Linked DNA regions of Homo sapiens: region 1 is linked to region 2. The links come from fine-mapping of genetic effects on gene expression. A gene starts in region 2. The other region holds a variant in brackets. All regions are shown on one strand. Distances are between the middles of the regions. Region 1 holds the start of PCDHA4 (protocadherin alpha 4). Region 2 holds the start of PCDHA8 (protocadherin alpha 8).

The links. PIP is the estimated chance that this variant, and not a neighbour inherited with it, causes the effect.
Region 1: its variant is the best candidate, but not a certain one, in a credible set for the expression of PCDHA8 in cerebellar hemisphere (GTEx, PIP 0.70).

The regions. Positions count from the first base shown.
Region 1 is chr5:140,803,380-140,811,726 of GRCh38, forward strand. The region is part of intron 1 of PCDHA1 (protocadherin alpha 1); the gene reads left to right. The region is part of intron 1 of PCDHA2 (protocadherin alpha 2); the gene reads left to right. It overlaps PCDHA3 (protocadherin alpha 3), which reads left to right. Exons shown (of 4, transcript NM_018906.3): 1 at 1-212. It overlaps PCDHA4 (protocadherin alpha 4), which reads left to right and starts at 3,689. Exons shown (of 4, transcript NM_018907.4): 1 at 3,689-6,193. The coding sequence starts at 3,809. It also overlaps PCDHA@. The variant G/C (reference allele first, on the strand shown) is at 3,474.
Region 2 is chr5:140,837,751-140,846,097 of GRCh38, forward strand. PCDHA8 (protocadherin alpha 8) reads left to right here and starts at 3,437. Exons shown (of 4, transcript NM_018911.3): 1 at 3,437-5,965. The coding sequence starts at 3,572. The region is part of intron 1 of PCDHA1 (protocadherin alpha 1); the gene reads left to right. The region is part of intron 1 of PCDHA2 (protocadherin alpha 2); the gene reads left to right. The region is part of intron 1 of PCDHA3 (protocadherin alpha 3); the gene reads left to right. It also overlaps PCDHA4, PCDHA5, PCDHA6, PCDHA7 and PCDHA@.

The sequences.
Region 1 (8,347 bases), 34 kb before region 2:
CCGAAGGCGACTGTGGGCCGGGCAAGCCCACGCTGGTGTGCTCCAGCGCGGTGGGGAGCTGGTCATACTCGCAGCAGAGGCAGCAGAGGGTGTGCTCTGGAGAGGGGTTGCCCAAGACCGACCTCATGGCTTTTAGCCCTAGCCTTCCTCCTTGTCCAATTAGCCGGGATAGAGAGGAGAAACAGGATGTGGACGTTGATCTCTCAGCCAAAGTGAGTAATTTTTATTTATTCTTTCCAAAATGTCTTTGTTTTTCATTCCTCAATGTTTCCACTCCTCTGGAAATACATTAATAGTTAAGTATGAATTATGTGATTCATAATTAGACTTTTCCAGTTTTGTGGTTTTGTGGTTAAAACGGTAAGATTTTTGTTGCTAATTTTTGAACCAAATCAGCAGTAAGTTATGATATCCACACTTGTAATTTTGTTTTGTTATTAGGTGCAGTAGTAGAATTATTTTATTGCTAAATGCCTGGGTATAAGACAAATATTTTTTCTTAGATGAATTGCATTATTTAGAGAATCTGACTTCGACTTGTTTTATACTTATCCCTATACAATGCTTCTTCAATATCTTTTGCCACTTTTCATTTGGACTTCCTACTACCTGTTAGTACAAATGTTACTTGCTCATTTTATGAGTTCACCTAATGCTTATAACTCCCTATTGATTATGCTTTTCCACCTTCAGTTTCAAAAATTAGATCATTACACCTGTTGTCTTTTATGGAACCTCTTTTATTCTCTTATTCACTTGTTTGGAGTCTCAATCCTTATTTTTTACTTGAATATGATTCATTTTAGGCCTTGTGCTCTAATTTGGCAATACCGTTTATTGTTTCTTGATTTCCCAGTTGGGAAAAAAATCGAGAATAACAATTGCATTTAGAATTGCATCTTTGTTCATCTTTAGTTTATCACTACTTTATTTAATACTACTTTAATAATACTACTGTATTATATGTTAAAATTTATTACTAATAACTAAAATATCAATATGAAGTGAAAATTTAATAGTTGTATAGTATATTTATATATTCATTTTAAAAGAATGTTTTAAATCTTGTTAAAAATAATTTTCAATCTGAACAATATCTTGAAAATAATTATGGTATCTAATTTTAAAACTATCCCTACTAGCAAAACTTTTTATTCATTAGTGTCTTTTGCATACCATACTAAGGATGCTAATATGAAATAAGTTTGATAAGCCAATGTTATAATGTTATTACTGGTTAACTTCTCTGAATAGCATCCTGCCTATTAATGTGTGCCATGCAATAAGTAGAAAACTCCAAATAACCAGAACCAAATGAAATTGAAGGTAGACTTTTTTCTAATCACTACCCCTACATATTTGGTTATCTCCTCTAGCAATTAGTTGGACTCCCATTTAAGTTTCCCTACCACTGGAGAGAAATAGTAACCAACTGAAACCTGGTTAATACTCATTGACAGTGTGGGAGGTCTAACACGTAAAATAGATATTTTTCTTGACTCCTCTCCTTCCCCTCACTTCCATTTTCTTTATTTCCTTTTTTGGCACTATCCTTTGTTGCTCCCTTGTCCATGAAGTAGTAGCCATAGTGTGTCCATCTCAGGTCAGTATTTTAAAAATTTAGTTCTGTTATCAGCTTCTTGAATATAATAGAGTCAGCCAAAGTACTTGTCTTCCCAGATATGGAACTTCAATCTTCAAATCCAGCTTGCCTCTTGAAACTATTGTCTAACAAGACTCTTGGCAAAGACATTTTGAAGACTTTGGAATTTTCACTTCACAGATGTACTGATGCTATGCCAAATAAATATTGAATAGCTACCAAATAAACATTGTTTTCTATTCTGCTGCATTCCCCATCTGTACATTAAAATACCTGGTAAATGAAAATATTACAAATGAAATGGGTGAAAATGGAATTCTTCCTCCTTTTTTCCAATGTGCTTGATGTCAATGATCATTTTGTAAAAATATAGTTTGGGTCCCCACATAGTGAAAGTACTCTGGTTTCTGTTTGATTCAGAAATTTGGTGGGTTTTTTGTTGTTGTTTTGGTTTTTGTGTGTGTGTGTTTGTGTGAGTGTAGTTCTTCAATAGAGAGGGAGCGTAAAGCTATTTTCACTAGATTGATTTTTTGTTTAGACAAACAGGATGAAAATAACTTTATGGATATAGGAGGCAAGGAAAGTTTTTAAATGGCTACCATTATGTCTTTATATATTAAATTTCTTTATGTAAGAAAATGTATTGTGGTTTATTTATTGGGAAGTCTTCATTCCCCATTAATACCCAGGATGATTCAAAGATCATGATTACCAAGAATTAGAATAAAAATTAAGCTAAAACCCAAGTTTTCAACATTGAACTTGAAATACATCTTAATTGGGGAAATGTCTAGAGACTTTTTTTGTATCTTTAGAAAATCATAGAGGCTATTGAAACACCACATTTTCCCAACTAGATATGCGATCACCTTAAATTAATGCATTTTATTAGGCAATGGAAGGAAGCAAACATTTTCTGCAGGGTAAATATTTAGGAAATATTAGGTAAGTCCCTCTGAGCTATTAAACAATTAAGATACAACTATTCCCTTTAAAATATATATTCCAAAAAAGGACACACATACTCAAATGCTTATAAGAGATAAATTAATGTAATAAATGGCCCACGCGATTCCACCCTGGTGCTGCAGTTTGTAAAAGAAGAAAAAATACCTGTTCAATTGGTTTGATCATGACATTCTTCATGGGTCAGGGAAGTTTTAAGTGGTTATAAAATGGGGTAAATTGGCTTTAGAAGAGTTTAGAAATGATGTGGATTACTTATAGACAGGACAAAATGAACATGCTTGTTTATTAAAAAAAGCTATTGGAAGCAGGAAATATTCAGTTTGGCTAAAATATATAAGCACTATAGGAGAAAATAGAAGCTTAGGCACATTACATACTGGAGAACAAGCAAGTACTTATAAACTGTAAGAGTCAAAATGAGAATACCAGCGTTTCTCATGGGAGCAAATGAGTTCCAATGAATAAAATTATTTGGAATGCTTTTCCATGCAAGCTATTTGCTATAACTTCCTGCTTCCTTGCACTTTCAGCCCTGACATGACTCAAGGAAGACATCTAATTAAATGCTGATGGTCTTTGATCCTTTTATAAAACATCTGCAAATTTCCCTGTCAATAGCTTGTTCTTGGCACCAGAAGTTCCCTAGAGACCAGTCCCCTCAAGTCAACAACACCAGAAATACTAGGGTGAAGAGGGTGTTATCATTAATAAAAAAAAACCCTGGAATTCTTGGGAACACAGGAATCTGTAATGAATTTTTCTAATCAACAGTTTACAGTTACATGTTTACAAAGTGTATAGTTAGGTCTCTGTAATACTTAAAACCTGTGTTGAAAAAATTATTTCTACTGAAGTAAAAGTTGCCCCTATGGCGAAACTAAGGACCACACTCAATCAATCA[G/C]TGGTACAATGTGTACCACAGTAGTACAAAATGTATTCCTATTCTCCGAAACGACTGAAATAATAAATAAAACCAAGTAGTTTACAGTAGAGTGTGTGGGGGTTTCCACAATTGCTACTTACGGTTTGGAGCCACATGATGTCGCTCTTTACCACAAAATACATGAGAGAAGGAGGAAGAAGGGAAAATTCCTTCTATTCTTACTGGAAGGAACCATATACACTCTTTGGAGTCTGAAATATGGAGGATGCAGCTGCACTTGACTGACCGATTAAAAGATTTCCCTTGACTTTGAGAAACGATATTTAATCAGAACAAAATACTGTGCACTAAAGATGGAGTTTTCCTGGGGAAGCGGCCAGGAATCCCGGCGTCTGCTGCTCTTACTTCTTCTCCTCGCAGCCTGGGAGGCAGGGAACGGTCAGCTCCACTACTCGGTCTCCGAGGAGGCCAAACACGGCACCTTCGTGGGCCGCATCGCGCAGGACCTGGGACTGGAGCTGGCGGAGCTGGTGCCGCGCCTGTTCCGGGTGGCGTCCAAGGGCCGCGGAGGCCTTCTGGAGGTAAATCTGCAGAATGGCATTTTGTTTGTGAATTCTCGGATCGACCGGGAGGAGCTGTGCCGGCGGAGCGCGGAGTGCAGCATCCACCTGGAGGTGATCGTAGACAGGCCGCTGCAGGTTTTCCATGTGGACGTGGAGGTGAGGGACATTAACGATAACCCGCCGGTGTTCCCAGCAACACAAAAGAACCTGTCCATCGCGGAATCCAGGCCGCTTGACTCTCGGTTTCCACTAGAGGGCGCCTCGGATGCAGATATCGGGGAGAACGCCCTGCTCACTTACAGACTGAGCCCAAATGAATACTTTTCTCTGGAAAAACCACCTGATGACGAGCTGGTAAAAGGTCTTGGGCTTATATTACGGAAATCTTTAGACAGAGAAGAAGCTCCGGAGATTTTTTTAGTGCTCACAGCCACTGATGGAGGCAAACCCGAGTTGACTGGCACCGTTCAGTTACTCATCACAGTACTGGATGCCAATGACAATGCCCCAGCTTTTGACAGAACCATTTATAAGGTGAGATTACTAGAAAATGTTCCTAATGGAACATTGGTAATTAAACTTAACGCCTCAGATTTAGACGAAGGATTGAATGGGGACATTGTTTATTCATTCTCAAATGATATTTCGCCAAATGTGAAATCCAAGTTTCACATAGATCCAATTACTGGACAAATTATTGTAAAGGGATATATTGACTTTGAAGAAAGCAAATCCTATGAAATTATTGTAGAGGGCATTGATAAGGGACAGCTCCCACTTTCTGGCCATTGTAGAGTTATTGTGGAAGTAGAAGACAACAACGATAATGTCCCAGATTTGGAATTCAAGTCTTTATCACTTCCAATTAGAGAGGACGCTCCACTGGGTACAGTCATCGCCCTGATCAGCGTGTCCGACAAAGACATGGGTGTCAATGGGCTGGTCACCTGCTCCTTGACGTCCCACGTCCCCTTCAAGCTGGTGTCCACCTTCAAGAATTACTACTCGTTGGTGCTGGACAGTGCCCTGGACCGCGAGAGCGTGTCAGCCTATGAGCTGGTGGTGACCGCGCGAGACGGGGGCTCGCCTTCGCTGTGGGCCACGGCCAGTGTTTCTGTGGAGGTGGCTGATGTGAACGACAACGCTCCGGCGTTCGCGCAGCCCGAGTACACAGTGTTCGTGAAGGAGAACAACCCGCCGGGCTGCCACATCTTCACTGTGTCTGCGTGGGACGCGGACGCGCAGGAGAACGCGCTGGTGTCCTACTCGCTGGTAGAGCGGCGGGTAGGGGAGCGCGCGCTGTCGAGCTACGTTTCGGTGCATGCGGAGAGCGGCAAGGTGTACGCGCTGCAGCCGCTGGACCACGAGGAGCTAGAGCTGCTGCAGTTTCAGGTGACCGCTCGCGATGCCGGCGTGCCACCTCTGGGCAGCAACGTGACGCTGCAGGTGTTCGTGCTGGACGAAAACGACAACGCGCCAGCACTGCTAGCGCCTCGGGCGGGTGGCACTGGTGGCGCAGTGAGCGAGCTGGTGCCATGGTCGGTGGGTGTGGGCCACGTGGTGGCAAAGGTGCGCGCGGTGGATGCTGACTCGGGCTACAACGCGTGGCTTTCGTACGAGCTGCAGCCGGGGACTGGTGGCGCGCGCATCCCGTTCCGCGTGGGGCTGTACACTGGCGAGATCAGCACAACGCGTGCCCTGGACGAAACGGACGCTCCGCGCCACCGCCTACTGGTACTGGTGAAGGACCACGGCGAGCCCGCGCTGACGGCCACGGCCACTGTGCTGGTGTCACTTGTGGAGAGTGGACAGGCGCCAAAGGCCTCCTCACGGGCGTTGGTGGGCGCTGTGGGTCCCGATGCTGCGCTGGTGGATGTCAACGTATACCTGATCATTGCCATCTGCGCGGTGTCCAGCCTTTTGGTGCTCACGCTGCTGCTGTACACCGCGCTGCGGTGCTCTGCGCTGCCCACCGAGGGCGCGTGCGCTCCGGGCAAGCCCACGCTGGTGTGCTCCAGTGCGGTGGGGAGCTGGTCATACTCGCAGCAGAGGAGGCCGAGGGTGTGCTCTGGTGAGGGCCCACCCAAGACCGACCTCATGGCCTTCAGCCCCAGTTTACCTGACTCTAGGGACAGAGAAGATCAGCTGCAGACAACTGAGGAATCCTTTGCAAAGGTTAGTGTATAACATCCTTTTGTTTAATTTTCGTATTGTTTTTCTCTATCAACTTCTTCGTAAATTTATTTCTAAGAGTCAAATTTCCCTGGGTTAAAATTTTACCTCTTTTTACATATCCATTTTAACTAAAGTCTTTTGGAATTATAGGACATCAGAGCAATATATATTGCCTTCCTTCATTTTATGCTGCATTATTCAATGCATATTAACAGAACTGTAATTTCTAGTAAATTTTCACTATATTCACCCTCTTTGTTTTTGGTAATAATCAACATTTTAGAAAACATTTTACTATTATTTAACCTATTACATATAAACAAATGTGCACAGGCTGAAATAATAAAGCTCCATAAATTGTATGAAAGTGAAAAGCTCCGTTGCCTCCATCGCTGAAGCCCCTCGCATGCACCTGCCAAATCACTTCCCTTATTTTTCCTCCAGTGTAACCGCACATTTGCCTTTTATAACTGTTTGTTCGGGGCCTGTTTTGGGAACGTTATCTAATTGGACTTGCACAACATGTATTGTCTGTGCATTTGTGTGTTATTTGTATTTATCACTCATTGTTTATGAAATTATCCATGTTGTTATATGTAGTTGTAGTTTATTTATTTCTGTTTCTAGTACTATTTCATAAATATACTATACCTTATTTATTCTACTGTTCAGGAATTTGCATTGTGCCTCAATGTCTATTTCAAATAATGCCATCATAAATATATTGTACATTTCTTTGATGCCCATGTACACAGATTTCTCTCAGGTTTTTGCCTAAGAGTTGTGTTTGTGGGTCACAGAATATGTGTGTATCTTTGTCTTTTGTAGCTAACACCAACCAATTTTCCAAGATGTTTTTACCTGTTTACATTCCTAGTAGTGCATAAGGCTTTCTGCTGGGCCACATCATCTCTACATTTGTCAGGTTATTTTCATGTTAGCCATTTTACTGGGTGACTTTTGTAATCTCATTTTGAAATTATTTTATATTTAAATGAAGTTGAGTACCTTTCTATTTTATTTTGGCAATTTTTATACCTTATTTTGTGCAATAGCTGCTCAAATCTCCTATTTCTCTAGTCTGTTGTTTTTCTTTTCTTTTTTCTCTTCTTTTTGCTTCCATAGAACTTTATTTATTTCCTTATCTTGTTTTTCTTATTACTTAAACAAATCTTGTATTCTGAACATAACTCCTTTTTTTAGTAGTTTTCAACCTCATGGCTAGTTTTTAATTCTTTTTTGTCTTTTGGTGAATAGAAAGTCATAATTTTGATTAAACTCAATTTATCAATTTTTGCTTCTGATCCTATTTCACAAAGATAATTTTCTGTGGTATCTTTTATTTCATTGTTTACATTACATCTACAATCCATTTGGAATATACATATTTTTATCATTGTTGTGAGGTAGGGGTCAAGATTTATTTTTATTTCTTCTTATTATTTTTATTATACTTTAAGTTCTAGGATACATGTGCACAACGTGCAGGTTTGTTACATAGGTATACATGTGTGCCATGTTCGTTTGCTGCACCCATCAACTCATCATTTACATTAGGTATTTCTCCTAATGCTATCCCTCCCCCAGTCCCCCACACCTCAACAGGCCCCAGTGTGTGATGTTCCCCACCCTGTGTCCAAGTGCTCTCGTTGTTCAATTCCCACCTATGAGTGAGAACATGCAGTGTTTGGTTTTCTGTGCTTGTGATAGTTTGCTCAGAATGACGGTTTCCAGCTTCATCCATGTCTCTACAAAGGACATGAACTCACCCTTTTTTACGGCTGCATAGTCTTCCATGGTGTATATGTGTCACATTTTCTTAATCCGGTCTATCATTGATGGACATTTGGGTTGGTTCCAAGTCTTTGCTATTGTGAATAGTGTCGCAATAAACATACATGTGCATGTGTCTTTATAGTAGCATGATTTATAATCCTTTAGATATATACCCAGTAATGGGTCAAATGGTATTTCTAGTTCCAGATCCTTGAGGAATCGCCACACTGTCTTCCACAATGGTTGAACTAGTTTACACTCCCACCAACGGTGTAAAAGCGTTACTATTTCTCCACATCCTCTCCAGCATGTGTTGTTTCCTGACTTTTTAATGATTGCCATTCTAACTGGTGTGAGATGGTATCTCATTGTGGTTTT
Region 2 (8,347 bases):
ACTGCAACCTGAAAGTCCTGGGCTCACAGGATCCTCCCATCTCAGCCTCTGGAGTAGCTGGGAATACAGTTTGCATGTCATTGTGCCTGGCTAATTTTATTTTATTTTTGTAGAGACAGGGTGGAGTCTTGTTTCCCAGGCTGGTCTTGAACTCCTGGCTTCAAGCGATCCTCCTACCTTGGCCTCCCAAAGTATTGGGATTACAGACACGAACAACCACACCCAGCCTGCCTTTCATCTTTCCTTTTTTTTAAAAAAAGAAGTGATTACAGTAGAAACCTACCTTTCTGCACTTTTTGGTTTTCCACTTTAAGTTATATATATATAGTGTGTGTGTGTGTGTGTGTGTGTGTGTGTGTGTGTGTGTGTGTGTGTGTGTGTTTGACAGAGTTTTACTCTGTCGCCCTCTCTGGAGTGCAGTGGTGCAATCTCAGCTCACTGCAAAATCCGCCTCTCTGGTACAAGCAGTTCTCATGCCTCAGTCTCCCAAGTAGCTGGGATTAAAGACGCCAACAACCAAGCCATGCTAATTTTTTTTTTTTTTTGTATTTTTAGTAGAAACAGAGTTTCACCATGTTGCCCCGGCTGGTCTCGAAATCTGGGACTCAAGTGATCTGACTGCCTCAGCCTCCCAATGTGCTGGGATTACAGGAGTGAGCCACCGCATCCGGCCTAAATTATATATTGGGTTTTGTGGCATATTATTTCATTAGCGCTTATTCCTTGTTTTTGATTATTTGCTTTCTTATTTTTAAAAGTATTTGCATCTTATTTTCTTTTATGGATATATCATGATTTATTCATCCAGTACTGTATTAGGGACATTAATGAAACAATAACCGAATTGTCTAGACTTTTAAAAATTTTTTACAAATAATTTGGTTGGTCAAAAAAATGATAGTTAACGGGGCATGGTGGCACACACCTTTAACCCCAACATTTCGGGAGGCCGAGGCAGGAGGATTGCTTCAGTCTAGTAGTTTGAGACCAGCTTGTGCATCTTTTGTAGAGACTTTGTAAAATTAGCTATGCATGGTGATGCATGTCTGTAGTTTCAGCTACTCAAGAAACTGAGGTGGGAGGATCACTTAAGCCAGGGAGGTCCAAGCTGCAGTTATCATGCCACTGAACTCCAGCCTAGGTGACAGAGCAATACCTTGCCTCAAAAATAAAATAAAATGAAATAATAAAATAAAATAAAATAAAAACCCAGAACTGACAATTTTCACTGTTCCTAATATTCTAATATACTTTAGTAAATTATTTTAGGATATGTTACTGTTTTCTTTTCAACGTGAATAAGGATAGAGGTATGCAAAGTCAAAAACCTGTCTGATAATCAATAGAATTATTTACCATTAAGCCATAATATGTCATTCACATAAGCAGACCAAGTTTGCTGCTCTTGTTGAAAGATATTCAGTTTTGTGGAAAAATCTATAAATATCTTTGACCTTCAAAGATGTAACTGTAATCTGTTTTTATTGCTTTGCTTTTATGCTTACATGCATGTATATTTAAAACCTTCCTAGCATATTATTAAAGTTTTAAATATCCTATTTATATTGGGAAATACCTGAAGTTGATAGGGGATCCTCCTTAGCCACCTAAGCTGTATTCATCAATTATTATGATGATGATGATGATTATTATTTTTGAGACAGGGTCTCACTCTGTAGCCCAGACTGCAGTGCAGTGGCACAATCTGGGCTTACTGCAATCTCTGCCTCCTGGGCTCAAGTGATCTTCCTACCTCAGCCTCTCAAGTTGCTGGGACTATAGGCACACACCACCATGCCCAACTAATTTTTGTATTTTTTGTAGAGATGGGGTCTTACCATGTTGCCCAGGCTGGTCTCAAACTCCTGAGATATCGAGAAATACTATTTTCTTTACAAATTGTTTGCTACTATTTAGAGTCAACTACAGAGATTTTTTTGGGTAAATAATGTGATGACAAATTTAAATCATTTCACAGAAAATACCCTTATTTGCCTTTCCTATTTAACCTACGTTTTTGGTAAGAATTTTGTAGAAATTTGGAGGAGCTCTTAATTGCCTACTATGAAGGCATTCATGATGAATCCATGGAGAATTTACTTTTGAGGTGGACTTTGAAAGATGAATAGAATTTTGACAGAAAAAGATGAAGTAATAGAAGAAAAACCTTGAACAAAGAGTGTGCCAAGAAGGAGACAACATATTTTCTGTAAAATATGACTCCTATTGGAAAGTGGTTAGCCTTAGCACTGAGAAGATTGGCTCATGGTCACGTAGCGTATCTCCCAGATGGAAGTCTAATGTCTTGACAATTAGTCAATAGAAAGATAAACTTGTTGAAGATTTTAGTGAAATCGAGTGAAAGCTGTACTAATAAGGACAGAAATTATCACACGTGAAAGGAGAGATGGGATGTATACAAATTTTAAATATGGTAGGCAAAGGAAAAGAAGTCATAAAAATACATATGAGTAAATGTGGAGAATCACTATGCTATAAAAATTGTGATTTTTTAATGATTTGGGTTTTGGGTGATTATTGATTAGATATTCTTTTAACTTTGGTCGACTCATTTTCTAGGCAATGTTAGGGTATACAGGTAAAAATGTCAGGTAGAAAATGAAAATAGGGGGTTGCAGATATGGAGTTAAGAATACTTCAAATAATAGGCTAGTTTAAAGCCGTGGAAATAGAAACGTTAAATAAAAAGTTGGGGAAAAAAGTTTAAAGGCATAATTCTGGTAAATACTCACTTTTTGGAGCAGAAGAAAGATGAAGAACTAACAAGCCAATGATGGCAATACTGCTAGAGTTTGGCATGTCAGAGAAATCATAAAGGAAAATGTTTTAAGTGAGAGGCTGAATTTAACAAGCTATAGAGATATAGAGAAATAGTGTAAAGAATATGCACATACATTTTTATTACTTTAGTAAATAAAACGGTTCAGGCAATTTGACATTTATTGAATAAAGAAAAGCAAAAATTTAACAATAAGAACACAAGAAGATAAAATGTAGAAAAGTTAGAATTATATGCTCACCTCAGAGTAATATATACCAGTGTTTCTGGTGACCAAATAAATATTAATGCATTTCTTCCACACGAAACTATGGAGGACAGTTTACATTTCTGATATCCATGACATACAGGTCATACTTAAATTTATTATTAATTGATACGATATTTGAAATATTGGGAAGAAATTCCTTTCCTTATGAAGAAGAAATCCCTAGCTGAAACTAATGTAAGGAGCCAGACAGTATGAATGCCTCTGCAATTGATAAAGTTAAGGATTTACTATTAAATTATGATAAAGAAATAGAAAGTGCATAGAAGAACCCAGATATTGCGGAAGTAATTCATGTAATCATTACCTTTTGAAGCCACATGATGTCGCTGTCTACCAAGAAGTTCTGGTTGGTCAATGTTCAAAGTCTTTTCTCTGACAGCATCTGTCTCTAAAGGCCGAACAACGGGAGATGCAGCGGAATTGGATTAAAAGACTCTGAAAGTACAGTCGTTCATCTTTATATTAAGATAATATTTTCTGATAGGAAACGACTATTTAACATGGATTATCACTGGCGAGGAGAGCTGGGATCCTGGCGACTACTACTCTTGCTTCTGCTCCTCGCAGCCTGGAAGGTGGGGAGCGGCCAGCTCCACTACTCCGTCCCCGAGGAGGCCAAACACGGCACCTTCGTGGGCCGGATCGCGCAGGACCTGGGGCTGGAGCTGGCGGAGCTGGTGCCGCGCCTGTTCCGGGTGGCGTCCAAAAGACACCGGGACCTTCTGGAGGTAAGTCTGCAGAATGGCATTTTGTTTGTGAATTCTCGGATCGACCGCGAGGAGCTGTGCGGGCGGAGCGCGGAGTGCAGCATCCACCTGGAGGTGATCGTGGACAGGCCGCTGCAGGTTTTCCATGTGGACGTGGAGGTGAAGGATGTTAATGACAACCCGCCAGTGTTCCGGGTAAAAGACCAAAAGCTGTTTGTTTCAGAATCCAGAATGCCAGACTCTCGGTTTCCGCTAGAGGGCGCGTCCGATGCAGATGTTGGAGCTAACTCCGTGTTAACCTACAGGCTTAGCTCTCATGATTACTTCATGCTAGATGTGAATTCAAAGAACGATGAGAATAAACTGGTTGAGCTCGTATTAAGAAAATCCTTGGACAGAGAGGACGCTCCTGCGCACCACTTATTCCTGACAGCCACAGATGGGGGCAAACCTGAGCTCACAGGCACTGTTCAGCTGCTGGTCACAGTGCTGGATGTGAATGATAATGCTCCCACTTTCGAACAGTCTGAATACGAAGTAAGAATATTCGAAAACGCAGACAACGGAACAACAGTTATCAAACTGAATGCTTCTGATCCGGATGAAGGAGCCAATGGGGCAATTTCATATTCTTTTAATAGCCTTGTTGAAACTATGGTTATTGACCACTTTAGCATAGATCGAAATACGGGAGAAATAGTGATTCGGGGTAATTTGGATTTTGAACAAGAAAACTTATACAAAATCCTCATTGACGCCACGGACAAAGGCCATCCTCCCATGGCGGGTCATTGCACCGTTTTAGTGAGAATTTTGGATAAAAATGATAACGTCCCTGAGATAGCACTGACTTCCTTATCCTTGCCTGTACGTGAAGACGCTCAATTTGGTACTGTCATCGCCCTAATTAGCGTGAACGACCTCGATTCAGGTGCCAACGGGCAGGTGACCTGCTCCCTGATGCCCCATGTCCCCTTCAAGCTGGTGTCCACCTTCAAGAATTACTACTCGTTGGTGCTGGACAGCGCCCTGGACCGCGAGAGAGTGTCGGCCTATGAGTTGGTGGTAACCGCGCGGGACGGGGGCTCGCCTTCGCTGTGGGCCACCGCCAGCTTGTCTGTGGAGGTGGCCGACGTGAACGACAATGCTCCGGCGTTCGCGCAGCCCGAGTACACGGTGTTCGTGAAGGAGAACAACCCGCCGGGCTGCCACATCTTCACGGTGTCTGCGCGAGACGCGGACGCGCAGGAGAACGCGCTGGTGTCCTACTCGCTTGTGGAGCGGCGGGTGGGCGAGCGCTCGCTGTCGAGCTACATTTCGGTGCACACGGAGAGCGGCAAGGTGTACGCGCTGCAGCCGCTGGACCACGAGGAGCTAGAGCTGCTGCAGTTCCAGGTGAGCGCGCGCGACGCGGGCGTGCCGCCTCTGGGCAGCAACGTGACGCTGCAGGTGTTCGTGCTGGACGAGAATGACAACGCGCCGGCACTGCTGGAGCCTCGGGTGGGTGGCACTGGTGGCGCAGCGAGCAAGCTGGTGCCGCGGTCTGTGGGCGCGGGCCACGTGGTAGCGAAGGTGCGCGCAGTGGACGCCGACTCGGGCTACAACGCGTGGCTTTCGTATGAGCTGCAGCCAGCTGCAAGCAGCCCTCGCATCCCGTTCCGCGTGGGGCTGTACACGGGCGAGATCAGCACCACTCGTGTCCTGGACGAAGCGGACTCTCCGCGCCACCGTCTGCTGGTCCTGGTGAAGGATCATGGTGAACCTGCGCTGACCGCCACGGCCACGGTTCTGGTGTCGCTGGTGGAGAGCGGCCAGGCTCCAAAAGCGTCATCGAGGCAGTCGGCTGGCGTTTTGGGTCCGGAAGCGGCGCTGGTGGATGTCAACGTGTACCTGATCATCGCCATCTGCGCGGTATCCAGCCTGCTGGTGCTCACGCTGCTGCTGTACACTGCGCTGCGGTGCTCAGCACTGCCCACTGAGGGCGGGTGCCGGGCGGGCAAGCCCACTCTGGTGTGCTCCAGTGCGGTGGGGAGCTGGTCATACTCGCAACAACAGCCGCAGAGGGTGTGCTCTGGTGAGGGGCCACCGAAGACGGACCTCATGGCCTTCAGCCCCTGCCTTCCTCCTGATCTGGGATCAGTTGATGTAGGCGAAGAGCAAGATTTAAATGTTGATCATGGCCTCAAAGTAAGTCCATTTAAATTTAGAACTCATAAATTCTATTTGTGGAAATTGTAGTTACTTTAAAAGTGTTTCAGATTTAGTTTTTCACCGTATTTTATAGTGAAAATTTAAACATTGTTTAGTTTTTAGAAACCTTTTATAATTAATTGAATTTTCTCAGTGGCATAATACAGTATTAATCATTCTCCACAAGTTGGGTCTATCTTGAAACTCAAGTTATGGTTGGATGATATCCATTTTTTACTGAATATTTATTTTGGCCTGCCTTACAGCCGTCTTCTCTGAACAATACTCTAAGGACGTTCAGGGCATTTTGATCTTTGGTGAAAGTATTCCCCCAAAGCGTTTATTCTTTTGTCCTTAGGCACTGAACTCTTAATCTTACTCCATATGCTGTACTTTGAAATGCATGTTTTAAATATGTTGTCTTTATATTTACTTTTATTCACTTTAAGATCTCGGTTTATTCATCTTATCTGACTTTTTAGTGTCTGGTAGTCACAAATATCTTTGGTGTTTCACTATTGCCGTTTTAAGCAGTGTAGTGATAAAATACAGAATGATAGTGTTTTTCAAAATTTGATAGTTTTCATATTCTTCCTAATTTTATTATAAACTAGTTAAAAAGTAAAATCAAGAGGGAAGAGATTTGTAATCCTTCTTTTAATTCATTATTTAGACCATTTTACCATTTGGAGACATGTTTTTTATTCTACATGATTTTTACAGTTGTATTGTCGCCAACTTAACATTTTTTGAGCCTCTATGTTTAGGAAATGATTACTTTATTCTTGCAAGTATCTTCTAAACTCTAATCATTCAACCCTTTGTTCATGAGTTGGAATATTTTCAATAATATTCCACATTAAAGTGATATTTAATATATGACTTAGAAAAATGTTTTCATCAGAAAAACTATACATGATAATTTCATTCTTGCAAACCAAACATATAATTTATAAATCCTTATTATACAGAATATTTGGGATTATCATGGCCCATTAGTTCGTGTAAAAATATTTAGTATTATGGGATAAATCTTTGAAAAATCCAAGATACTTTATTTTGGTATCTTTCAACATTTTCTTTCTTTTATTTCTTCTTGTCTTTTTACACGTTTGCTTCTTGTGACTGTTGGACCTGCCTGGATATTAAATACCCATTAGACTTCGTGCATATTGCTTTGGAGAGAATGGTAGAAATTGATGGAAGGGAATGAACGATTTCTGGGACTCTGAATTCTTACAGTTTGTTATTAGTATTGTTTTAAATCTTTTAATCACTTATGAACAAATAATGTAATCATTTATGGGCATATTTTAGCCCCCTTGTCCAACTGAAGGTAACCTCAAAGCAGCATTGTTTTGTAGTTTATTTTACAGTTCTCTTAATGCCTGTCCATGTTTAGCATTTTATTTGACTATTTGAACACATTGTGTAAAAGCGAATTGTTTTCATTTTAGTCCTTTAAAAAATATGATTGTTTTCATTTAAGTCCTTTTAAAAAATATGATTATCTTTATTATCCTGTTTGAATAATATGTGTTTTCCTTTGTGAAAGTAATATTTCCTATCCTGTCTATGTCTACCTGGTTCTCAGGTATTACTTTAATTACTGAATTCTCCTAAACATTTAATTGACTTTTACAAAATATCATAAATAGGAGGATTCTTTCCACCACCTAGCATTGTATTTGGCAATTTATCATTTAAGTCATTTTAGTTCTGTTTTTCTTCAACTCTCTGATATTTGAATTTGGGGTTGTGCTTTCACAGTGAGAAAGTCTAAACCTATTTCTTGTACATTAATACTTTTCACTATTCTAATTATGGTGATGCTTTTAGCTATTAAGAATTTCTGGGATTGAAATGTGTCAGAAGTTAGTTATTAAGTATTGTGGATTCTGAAGCTCTCTAAATCAAGTCCTCCCTTTACCAATTTTTGTATGTGTAGCCATTGGTAAAGGATTTGTTATTCAGTTCCTTGGCATTATATGTATGCATGATAAATGTGAATTCTACTTTATAGATTTATTTGTATCAAGTAAGTTAATAGTTATAAATTATTAATAATAAACTCTGGCAAGTGATAGGTACATAATAAAATTTAGTTATTACCATTCTTAAGAGAAAAGAAGTTAGTGATTGCAGAAAGGCAACCTAAAATGTCAGAAAGTCGTTATGGCCTTCCATATTAATCTTATTTTTGTGTAAAACTATCTTCTGTAAAGTCATTTTTTAGATTAACCTAGGATGTTTCAATATTTTGAATGTTGTGTGGTGGAATGAAAAAAATCTAAAAGTTATTACGAGTTTAGGAAAGTCAAGTTAACACCACCTATGTGGGAAAACAGTTTTTTGGAAAGGTTAAAGTCCTTCCAAGGA